Homo sapiens: one gene and its partners. The protein of the gene in region 2 interacts with the protein of the main gene of each other region in a biochemical or structural test. Each region holds a gene or a part of one and is shown on either strand. Other genes may lie near its edges.

Region 1 (3,500 bases), on a different chromosome or scaffold from region 2:
CTCCCCAGTAGACCATCTGAGTCCCATGAGACTGCAGGCCCTGTGTTTTCTCCATCTCTCTCTTTAAGTACATTATTGCCTCTGCTTTACATTGTCAGGAACAGTTTTGAGATTTAAATGATATATAACCTGAACTGAATACTGGTTCTCTTTGCTTCCATTTGTTATGCCTTTTTTCCTTGTTAAATGAATGTGTATGCATGCATGTGTGTATACACATGTACATATCATGATGGTCCTCAGAATGTTTCAGTACAGAAGGTAGAATGCTTCTGCTACATTTGTAACTCACAGGTCAAGTCAAATTAATTTTCTTTCTTTTTTTTTTTTTTTTTTTTTTTGGAGACAGGGTCTCCCTCTGTCACCCAGGCTGGAGTGTAGTGGCGTGATCTCAGCTCACTGCAACCTCCCCATCCTGGGCTCAAGAGAGCCTCCCACCTCAGCCTCCTGAGTAGCTGGGACTACAGGTACAAGCCACCACACCCGGCTAGTTTTTGTTTTTTTTTTTTTGTAGAGATGGGGTTTTGCCATGTTGCCCAGGCTATTCTCGAACTTCTGAGCTCAAACAATCTGCCTGCCCCAGCCTTCCGAAGTGCTGGGATTACAGGTGTGAGCCACCACACCCAGCCAGTGATTTATTTCTGATATTATATTTACTACAAGAATTCTTTTCTATGTGTGAAAATTCGTTTTATATAAATGGAGAAACACTGTAGCTCTGTATTGAAATGTTCCAAGGATCATTGTGGTAATTCTGCTTTCCCTAATCTTAAATCCAACCAAAATTATGTTTTCAATAATTCCCATTAATTGTTATTTAGCATTACATGTGTGTATTTGTAGCCTTATTTTCATTCTGTCACCTTTTAAACCTACGGATGGATAGTTTCTTTAGTGTGGATTTTTAAAAATAATCCCTTGTACATCATACTTAGGACTTGACAGTTTCTGTGGAATTTGTATTACTTACTCATAACTAGAGTGAATGTTTATTGGGAACACTTCATCATCAACTACTGGTGGCATCTAAGTACTATAATTATATGTATAGATCAAATAAGTAGTTTATTTTATTTATTTAGTTTTTTAGAGACGGGGTCTCACTCTGTCACCCAGGCTCCATGGAGTGCAGTGGTGTGATCATGGCTCACTGCAGCTTCGAACTCCTAGGTACAAGTGATCCTCCTGCCTCAGCCTCCTAAAGAGCTAGGACTATAGGCACATGCTTCCATGCCTAATTAAAAAAAAAAAAATTTGGCCAGGTGCAGTGGCTCACACCTGTAATCCCAGCACTTTGGGAGACTGAGGTGGGCAGATCACGAGGTCAAGAGATTGAGACCATCCTGGCCAACATGATGAAACCCCGTCTCTACTAAAAACTAAAAAAAAAAGATTAGCTGGGTATGGTGGCGCACACCTGTAGTCCCAGCTATTCGGGAGGCTGAGGCAGGGGAATCACTTGAACCCAGGAGGCAAAGGTTGCACTGAGCCGAGATCGTGCTACTGCACTCCAGCCTGGTGACAGAGTGTGACTCCGTCTCAAAAAAAAAAAAATTTTTTTTTTTTTGGTAGAAACAGGATCTTGTGTTGCCCAGGCTGGTCTCAAACTCCTGGCCTCAAGTGATCCTCCAGCCTCCGCCTCCCTAAGTGCTGGAATTACAGGCGCGAGCCACCATGCCTGGCTCGTAGTCAGTTTTTTTTGTTGTTGTTGTTTTTGAGATGGAATCTCACTCTGTCGCCAGGCTGGAGTGCAGTGGCGCAATCTCGGCTCCCTGCAACCTCTGCCTCCTGGGTTCAAGCGATTCTCCAGCCTCAGTCTCCCGGGTAGCTGGACTACAGGCGCATACAACCACGCCTAGCTAATTTTTGTATTTTTAATAGAGACGGGGTTTCACCATGTTGGCCATGCTGGTCTCAATCTCCTGACCTTGTGATCTGCCCGCCTTAGCCTCCCAAAGTGCTGGGATTACAGTCATGAGCCACCGAACCCAGCCCAGTTTTTTGTTTTTTAACCTTACTACTGTCAGGGTTTGAGCAGAATAAATGGAATGTGACAGTGATCTGCTTTTTCTGAACTTTATTCCATAGTAGAATCTCAAAGTAGTTGAGTTCTGCTCTTATTTGTGTTCTAAATACTTGGTAAAACAAAACAAAAATTTGGATTTTCTTTTTAAAAAACACATACACACACCAAAAACACAAGACACATCAGATGAGTGTTATGTTGGGAAGGCTGCTTATGTGGAGACGTTACTTCTTTTTTTAATCTCTAGAGTAGTTTTTCAAATGTTACATAATGGTAGTAATTTAATTTAGACTCCATCACATAGAATTTTGAAACAGTTTCCTTTAACTAGTTTTAATACTATTCTGCATTTGCTCAAAAATATTATTCAATCTGTTTAATCCATAATATCAAAATATATCATTTAAATAACCTTCCCTAGCCAAGGAATGACAAGAATTAAGACTAGAACTACATCTCTTAAGTCCTAGACTAGTGAATTTCCAAAGTGAGTAACAAATTATCTTTTATACTTTGAAAAATTTGAAGGTTTTAATAAATTCAAGGTGGAAGTACTTTTTATTCCAGGTTTTAAAAACATTGATTTACATTGAAGTCAAGAAGTGGTATGGAACATACCCAAAGAATGCACGTTTGCCCTTGAGTCCATACCTACACCAAATGCCTTGCAATCCTTGCCCACTTATATTTTTATCATGGTATGTTTCAGGGTTTATACAGTGAATGATAATGAAATGAATAATGAAATGTCCTTAATACTACAACAAAATATAGCCTTGTCCAAAATGAAGAGTAAATCAATACTATATTATATGTCTGTATAAACTGGTCGTGATAGGAGTAGACCAGGATAATAGAGATGACGTGGACTTTTTTTTTTTTTCTTTGAGACAGGGTCTCTGTCACCCAGCCTGGGGTGCAGTGGTGCAATCTCAGCTCACTGCAGCCTCAACCTCCAGGGCTCAAGCAATCCTCCCACCTCTGCCTCCCAAGTAGCTGGGACTATAGGCACTTGCCATCAACCTGGCTAATTTTTGTATTTTTTGTAGAGATGGGATTTCGCCTTGTTGCCCAGGCTGGTCACAAACTCCTGAGCACAAGCGAACCACCTGTCTTGGCCCCCCAAAGTGCTGGGATTACAGGTGTGAGCCACCGTCCCCAGCCTCACATGGACATTTTGAAATAAAACCATATTCTTCCTTTTGTTTTATGTTTATTATGGATTACAAATTTATTTGGCAATTAAAAGTAACAGACCACTGGACCGTATCATCTCGTGAGTAGCTGAACTGTTGGATAATACTTTTATACTCTTTGATGCTAAAATATAATAAAATTGCCTAAATTTTGCGTGAGATGTTACTTCAATATAATAGAGTTTTTATATGCTATTTGGGTACGGTAGATTTTTCCAATGTGATCTTATATAACTGTAGTTAGTGCTTTTTTGCCTTTTATTAATTTAAATAATTAT
Region 2 (5,183 bases):
ACAGAAATACAAAAGGTCATTCAAGGCTACTATGAACACCTTTACGCACATAAACTAGAAAACTAGAGTAGATAGATAAATTCCTGAAAGATAAAACCCTGCTAGCTTAATTCAGGTAGAATTAGATACCCTGAACAGACCAACAACAAGCAGCAAGACTGAAATAATTAAAAAACTACCAGCAGGAAAAAGTCCAGGACCAGACAGATTCACAGAAGAATTCTACCAGATATTCAAAGAAAAACTGGTACTATTGGCACTATTCTACAAGATAGAGAAAGAGGGAATCCTCCATAAATCATTCTATGAAGGCAGTATCACCCTAATACCAAAACCAGGAAAGGACATAACCAAAAAATAAAACTATAGACTGATATCCCTGATGAACATAGATGCTAAAATCCTTAACAAAATACTAGCTAACCGAATTCAACAACATATGAAAAAGATAATCCACCACGATTAAGTGGTTTTCATACCAGGGATGCAGGGATGATTTAACATACGCAAGTCAATAAATGTGATACACCACATAAACAGAATTAAAAACAAAAATCACACGATCATCTCAATAGATGCAGAAAAAGCAATCAACAAAATCTAGTACCCCTTTCTGATTAAAATTCTCAGCAAAATTGATACAAGGGACATACCTCAATGTAATAAAAGCCATCTATGACAGACCCACAGCCAACATAATGCTGAATGGGGAAAAGTTGAAAGCATTCCCTCTGAGAACTGGGACAACATAAGGATGCCCACTCTCTCCACTCCTCTTCAGCACAGTACTAGAAGAAGTCCTAGGCAGAGCAATCAGACAACAGAAAGAAATAAAGGTCATCCAAATAGGTAAAGAAGTCAAACTGTCACTGTTCACTGATGATATGATTGTTTACCTGGAAAATCCTAAAGACTCCTCCAGAAAGCTCCTAGAACTGATAAAAGAATTCAGCGAAGTTTCTGGATACAAAATTAATATACACATATCAGTAGCTCTTCTTTACACCAACAGCGACCAAGCTGAGAATCAAATCAAGAACTCAACCCCTTTTACAATAGCTGAAAAACAAACAAACAAACAAAAACTTAGAAATATACATAACCAAGGAGGTGAAAGACCTCTACAAGGAAAACTACAAAACACTGCTGAAAGAAATAACAGATGACACAAATAATGAAACAAATAATGGAAACACATTCCATGCTGATAGGGTGGGAATCAACATTGTGAAAATGACCATACTGCCAAAAGCAATCTAAAAATTCAATGCAATTCCCATCAAAATACCACTATCATTCTTCACAGAATTAGAAAAAACAATCCTAAACTTCATATAGAACCTAAAAAGAGCCCGCATAGCCAAAGCAAGAATAAGCAAAAAGAATAAACCTGGAGGCATCACACTACCTGATTTCAAACTATACTATAAGACCATAGTTACCAAAACAGCATGGTACTGGTATAAAAATAGGCACATAGACCAATGGAATAGAACAGAGAGCCCAGAAATAAAGCCAAATACTTACAGCCAACTGATCTTTGACAAAGCAAACAAAAACATAAAGTGAGGAAAGGACACCCTATTCAACAAATTGTGCTGGGATAATTGGCAAGCCACAAGTAGGAGAATAAAACTGGATCCTCATCTCTCACCTTATATAAAAATCAACTCAAGATGGATCAAGGACTTAAATCTAAGACCTGAAACTATAAAAATTCTAGAAAATAACATTGGAAAACCTCTTCTAGACATTGGCTTAGGCAAGGGTTTCATGACCAAGAACCCAAAAGCAAATGCAATAAAAACAAAGATATATAGCTGGGACTTAATTAACCTAAAGAGCTTTTTCACGGCAAAAGGAACAGTCAACAGAGTAAACAGACAACCCACAGAGTGGGAAAAAATCTTCATAATCTATACATCTGACAAAAGATTAATATCCAGAATTTACAATGAACTCAAACAAATTAGCAAGGAAAAACAAAGAAGCCCATCAAAAAGTGGGCTAAGGACATGAATAGACAATTCTCAAAAGAAGATATACAAATGGCCAACAAACATATGAAAAAATGTTCAACATCACTAATGATCAGGGAAATGTAAATCAAAACCACAATGTGATATCATCTTAGTCCTGCAAGAATGGCCATAATCAAAACATCATAAAATATTAGATGTTGGTGTGGATGCAATGAACTGGGAACTGCTGGTGGGAATGTAAACTAGTACAACCACTATGGAAGATTCCTTAAAGAACTAAAAGTGTGAAGATTCCTCAAAGAACTAAAAGTAGAACCACCATTTGATCCAGCAATCCCACTACTGGGTATCTACCCATTGGAAAAGAACTCATCATACAAAAAAGATACTTGTACATGCATGTTTATAGCAGCACAATTTGCAACTGCAAAAATATGGAACCAACCCAAATACCCATCAATCAATAAGTGGACAAAGAAAATGTGATATATATGATGGAATACTATTTAGCCATAAAAAGGAATGAATTAATAGCATTCACAGTGACTTGGATGAGACTGGAGACTATTATTCTAAGTGAAGTAACTCAGGAATAGAAAACCAAACATTGTATGTTCTCACTCATAAGTGGTAGCTAAGGTATGAGGATGCAAAGGCATAAGAATGACACAATGAACTTTGGGGACTCAGGGGGAAAGGGTGGGAAGGGGGTGAGGGATAAAAGACTACAAATTGGGGGCACTGTATACTGCCTGGGTGATGGGTGCACCAAAATCTCACAAATCACCACTATAGAACTTACTCATGTAACCAAACACGACCTGTTCCCCAGTAACCTATGGAAATAAAAAAAATTGTTTTTAAAGTAGTGGGATAACATCAGCTTTCCCAGGTAGAATAAGAACTTGATTGTTACGTAGAAAGAAAAGAAAAATTATATTTAAATACTGTGTTTAAAAATATACTTTTCATGGAATTTTATAGCAGGCTGGGCTCCTGATTATCATGTATTCTAACCTTCTGAGTTTATAGACGAGGAAATTAGAGATTGTGACTACAAGGTCACAATGTTAGCTGGTAGGAGACCCAGAATTAGAATCCAGGTCTTCTAACTCCCAGGAAGTGCTCAGAATGCCACAATAAACATAAAAATATTTGTATTTACTTCAAGATGAAGGGGGGAAATGCTGCATAAATATTTTCATATCACACACAATTATAAAAAGCCAAGTCACATTTTTAATTTTACATTATTATAAGCATATATGGTACGTGTTTGACTTGCCAATTTTCAGCAGTGACACAGACAAGAAATAAATTTTGTTAATTATTCATGTCATTTTAGAACTGATATTTATTGAGCACTAAATATATAATAAACTATATAAGTCCTTACCTTCATGAAGTATACACTCAGGTGGGACAGATAAACACTAAACAAATCAGCAACACAAATTATAATATAGTGCTGCAAAGGGGAAAAAAAAAAAAGAGAGGGAAGTGATATAGAAAAATGAGGAGGAACTGCCATAGCAGAGTGGCCAGGAAAAGCCTCACTGAAAGGAAAGATGGAGTCAGCCACTTAAGGATGGTGGGGAAGCTATTTCAGATAGGAGAAATGCCATGTACAAAAAGGCCCTGAATTGGAATTTTCAAATGCTGCCATTTCAAGGAAATCAGTAAAAATAAATCCAATGTATTGAAACATGATAGGTGAGAAAAAGGACCCAAGATGAGGCTGGGGAGAGAGCAGGGAGGGCCAGCTCCAGTAGGGCTGTGAGGAACCTGTAGAGTTGGATCTTTATAGATGATAGGGAAGCCATGGAAGTGTTTCAGTCAGTATGTGACATAATCTGATTTTCAAAAAATAAGCCTGGCTGCTCTGTGGAAAATAAATTTATGGTAATAGTGAGGATGAAAATAAGTAAATGAATTAGTTACATATTTTAGAAGCAGAAACAATAGAACTTGCTAATAGATTAGATGTGGATTGTGAGGGGAAAGAAGAATGAAAGATGACTTTCATGTCACAGTGAGGTGAATGGTGGTAATGTTTACTGTATTGGTTAAGAAAGCCTGATGGCATTTTCCCAGAAAAATGACATAATCAGAGCTGAACTCTAGAGAATAAACAAGGCAGCATACCTGTTATAAGCATAAGGACTAGGAATGAGACTAAAACAACAGTTAGGTAGTCATTTGGCTTGTCTGAACTATGATAGTGGCAGAGGAAATGAAAGTGAGAGATATTTGACTTGGCAACTCATTAAGTGTGGAGGATAAAGGAGAGAAAAAGCCAAAGATGGCTCAGGTTTCAAGCTTGGATTACCTAGTGGAACCACACAGGGAAAGCAGATCTATGGGAAAAGGTGAGGGATAGAGATAAGTTAGAGACATACAGAACTTGAGGTACCAACAGTTCATCCAGGTGAAGATATCCCATGGGCCAGGGGGATACAGATCTGGAGTCTCAATGATGTCAGAGTTGGAACTAAATAGTGACATTCTCTACGGTGAGGTGACGGTTGAAATCACGAAAGTGGGTGAGATCTCAAGAAAATTATATAAAGAATGAGATAGAGCCTTGAAAATACTTGTAAGTTAAGAATTGAAAAGAGGAAGGGAGGCTAAAGAATAAGCAACCACATAGAAAGAAGGAGGAAAATGAGAGTCATGGAGGCAAAAGAAGAGCACAGTTTCAAGAAGGGAGGAAGGGTCAACAGTGTCAGATGGCATAAACAAGCCAAAGACAATGCTGGCAAAGTAAACCTCTCTAGATCTGGTAAAAGGACAGCACTGGCTACCTAGGAGAAAGTATTCTGGGGCTGTGGGTAGGGAGAAGTCAGATTGTAAGTGATTTGACAGTCAAGTGAGAAACAAAGTTATCTTGCTTAAAGGCATCACAAGGTATTATAGAAAGAGGACAGGATGATATGACTCTAGCTAGAGAAGCAGTCACTAGAGTGTCTGAAATAGAAATAATATGAAACTTGAAGATGAAAAAGATGAAAGAAGAACATCAGAAATAAAGAGCTGGAAGTCAGTCTGGGAAACACAATATAGTAGGTGATGCTGGAATTATACAGGAGCAAGGGGAAAAGATGAGGGCACTTGGAATAGATGTCCTGGTCTTTATTACCTAAGTAAGAAATGAAGTTATATTCTGTCTATGAGGAACAGTCCTAAGAATTTCCAAAATAT
Region 3 (3,500 bases), on a different chromosome or scaffold from region 2:
TTCATGATCACAGGGGTCGAAGTGGGTTCTTCTCGCTGTCTGCTGTTTCTGCGTGTGGTCACAGAACTGGTTGCACCAGATCTCCAGTCGGGGTGGCGTCAGTGAAGCATCAGAATGCAGGCTTTCAAAATATCCTGGGTTTTCCAATAGTGATGATATTCCTAGGAAGAGTTGGGGAGGTTTGGAATCTTGTGGCCTCTGGCTGCGTGACTCCTAAACCATAATTTCTAATTTGTGGCTACTTTGTTAGTCTTACAAACGCAGACTGCTCCCAGGCAAGAAGGGGGTTCGTTTCGGGAAAGGGCCGCTATCATCTCTGTTTGGAAGTTAAACTATAAACGAAGTTCCTCTCAAAGTTAGTGTGGCCTATGCCCAGGAATGGACAAGGGCAGCTTGGAGGTTAGAGGCAAGATGGAGTCCATTAGGTCAGTTCTCGGTCCCTGTCTGAGTTTTCTCCCTGTTGTCATTTTTGTAGAGGCAGTTCCAGCCCTACGTGCCCTCTCCCTGGGGTCCTCGTCCCTGGGCCTGGGTGTTTTGAGACACCAGCCCCACATTTGCCCTGTGCCCTTCCCTGTGTCCTGGTGGTGCTGTCCCGAGTGGTTGCCCTCTGACCCGTCCCCAGGGCTCAGTGATTGTGACCTGCTGCTCTGACGGGGCTCTCATATCTCCGCCCAGGGGTCTTCACCGAGTGCTACCGGAAGGACGAAGAGAGAGCCCAGAAACTGCTCACCCGCGTGTCCGAGGCCTGGGGGAAGACCACCTGCCTGCAGCTCGCCCTGGAGGCCAAGGACATGAAGTTTGTGTCTCACGGGGGCATCCAGGTGACCTCCCAAGAGCCCCTTCCAGAAACAGACGCCTGTGGTGCCTGCAGGGCGGACACAGCCTCCTGTTCGTGCAGTTGGCACGCACACTCACACAGGCTTCAGGGCCCTCAGCAGCTCGGGGACAGCGCCTGACCCCTCGGCCACCTGCTCCAGGCTCTGGCCTCCCATTTTGCAGATGGGGGGAAGCTAACATGAAGCAAAAGCAGGAGCTGGTGGCCATGGAGATCGCAATTCACCTCCCCATGGATGTTCCTACCTGGGAGCGGCAGGCAGAAGCCCAGGTGGCTCTGGGAACGGCGTCTGCCCTCTCTCCCTGGAGGGATAAGCGGGACACGGCGTGTCCTCCCTGGAGCAGCAGGGGCTCCCAGGCATGGCTGCCCTCAGCATCGCCCTGGAACCCCCGGCAGGGCCTGGCTCCCAGCGAGTGCCCCTTGCACGCTGGGCTTCCTTGGAGCGCCGAGCTATTGCCAAGTCCATGAGCTCCCGTCATGTCCTGGGCTGTGCCAGGCCTAGGGAGGCCTGGGGAAGGGTCCTGTCCCCCACTGCAGAGCTCAGAGGGGCCAGTGCTCTACAGCCTGCAACTGCGGGGCCTTCGAAGCCAGCAGAGATGGGGTCCCATAGCTTGAGGTCAGGTGAAAGGCGGGATTGGACACCCAAAGCCCCAGGGCAAGCTCTGTGTCTTCACCACTTTCTGCTGTGAGACTGCAGGCTAGCTCTGTCCACTAGGCACCCCGAGTCCTCAGCAGACAGCTGACGGGCACCATCTGGGGCACAGGGCTGGGCACTGCCATCCTGAGACTGCCCCCATCCGCAGGCCTTCCTGACCAAGGTGTGGTGGGGCCAGCTCTCCGTGGACAATGGGCTGTGGCGTGTGACCCTGTGCATGCTGGCCTTCCCGCTGCTCCTCACCGGCCTCATCTCCTTCAGGTGCTGCAGGGCTGCGGGGCTGCGGGACTGTGGGGCTGCGGGGCTGCGGGAGAGGCTCCTGGGGGCTCAGGATCTTCCCTAGATCCCCTCGCTGGGAGCAAGTCATGTGTCCTCAGAATTGTCCCTGGATCCTGGGGCTGTAGAGATGGGGGTGGGAAGCAGAGCAGGGCCCCACGTGCTGGAAGCACCTGCCTTGCCCCAGCCCCAGCACTGATCTCATGATGCTGATGAGCCCGTCCCTCAGCCACATCAGCCTGGGGTTGGGGAGGCCAGGAAAGATGGTCTCCTGCTCCTGCCGGCACTGTAGACCTGAGCCAGTCTGCGGCGTGGGCAGTTAGTGCAGGTCTGGGATGCGAGCAGCGAGCTGCGGCTGAGTGCCTCCCTGTCCTCGCAGCCGCAGAGCCTGTATTGATGGAATCGCTTTCCCTTATGAAGGAGGAGGACACGGCTGGCCATGGTTGAAGACCTGGCCTGGCCTGGTGTCCCCACCTGCACCTCCTCAGAGGCTTGCTGGGGCGTTGTGGGATCTGCTGTGTTTTACTGAGGGCTGGATGGAGGCTCAGGGTCTCCTGGGAGTCAGGGCAGATTCAAGACCCCAGCGAGGTGGCTGAGCCCCTTCTGCAACCCGCAGTCCACACTGCCTGCCTCCTTCCCTTTCTCCTCACGGCCAGGATGGGTACTTGAGTGTTCAGGAATCCTGGTGGGAAACTGAGGCAGGGAGGAGCGGCTCAGGTGTCCTAAAGCAGTGCTGGCTTCTCTCCTGCTCTCCCGAGGATGGCAGAGCCGTGTCACTGATGGCCGCCTCTGCTCCCGTTCCAGCGGCCCGGGGATAGGGACCTGGGATCAGGGCACACCACAGGGGGAGTGTGGTCAGCCCCACCCCCATTGAGGACGGCAAGGAAAGCCTGTCCCCATTTACAGGAGGGTGACTAAGGCCTGAGCGTCCACTGAGCACTGGGAGCTCTGAAGCTGGGGCCCACCCAAGGCTGGGCTTGGGGCAGGCTGGGCCTCCCTGTTTGCAGCCATTAAGGTCATGGCCATGGGCAGGGCGTCAGCGGGCATCCCTGTGTCCTCACTTTGCTGGGCTGTGGGGTCCAGCCCCACCCCGGTGGCTGTGTGTGAGGCTCCCAGGCTGTGCTGTGCCGGCTCCGCCTGTAGCTGCCGTTATGGCCCCGGATCCCTGAGTGCTTTTGCCTCTAAAAGCACATCTCTCTGAGGGGCACGGGGGATCACGGGGTGGCCAAAGCCTGTGGAGGTCAGGACCCTGGCCCTGGTGGTCACTGTCTCCTCTCTGCTGTGACGGCCGCAGGGAGAAGAGGCTGCAGGATGTGGGCACCCCCGCGGCCCGCGCCCGTGCCTTCTTCACCGCACCCGTGGTGGTCTTCCACCTGAACATCCTCTCCTACTTCGCCTTCCTCTGCCTGTTCGCCTACGTGCTCATGGTGGACTTCCAGCCTGTGCCCTCCTGGTGCGAGTGTGCCATCTACCTCTGGCTCTTCTCCTTGGTGTGCGAGGAGATGCGGCAGGTACAGCCCCACCCGCTTTTCCACGCCCCAGCCCGGGGCCACCCACTTGGCTGCATTCTCATAGGGGACCCATGGCTTAGAGCCCACCCCATCTAGCCTGCCCAGCTCCCTGCAAGCTGAGCAGAGCCGGTGTTTCCTCCCCAAAATGGGTGGCTGGGGCGCTGCCCTCCAAGCCCCTCCCTCCTCATGCCCCCTGCGCCTGCTTCCCTGCTTTCCCTCGGCC

Evidence for each region.
Region 1: the proteins of EFHC1 (region 2) and SMURF2 interact in a surface display test, tested with the Homo sapiens proteins (one large-scale study listed by IntAct).
Region 3: the proteins of EFHC1 (region 2) and TRPM2 form a complex in vitro, tested with the Homo sapiens proteins (one study listed by BioGRID).

What each region holds. Positions count from the first base shown.
Region 1 is NC_000017.11:64,557,808-64,561,307, reverse strand, and holds part of SMURF2 (E3 ubiquitin-protein ligase SMURF2), read left to right. Parts: intron 1-3,500. UniProt on the Homo sapiens protein: E3 ubiquitin-protein ligase which accepts ubiquitin from an E2 ubiquitin-conjugating enzyme in the form of a thioester and then directly transfers the ubiquitin to targeted substrates.
Region 2 is NC_000006.12:52,425,845-52,431,027, reverse strand, and holds part of EFHC1 (EF-hand domain-containing protein 1), read right to left. Parts: intron 1-5,183. UniProt on the Homo sapiens protein: Microtubule inner protein (MIP) part of the dynein-decorated doublet microtubules (DMTs) in cilia axoneme, which is required for motile cilia beating.
Region 3 is NC_000021.9:44,398,621-44,402,120, forward strand, and holds part of TRPM2 (transient receptor potential cation channel subfamily M member 2), read left to right. Parts: intron 1-675; coding exon 676-821; intron 822-1,638; coding exon 1,639-1,751; intron 1,752-3,060; coding exon 3,061-3,277; intron 3,278-3,500.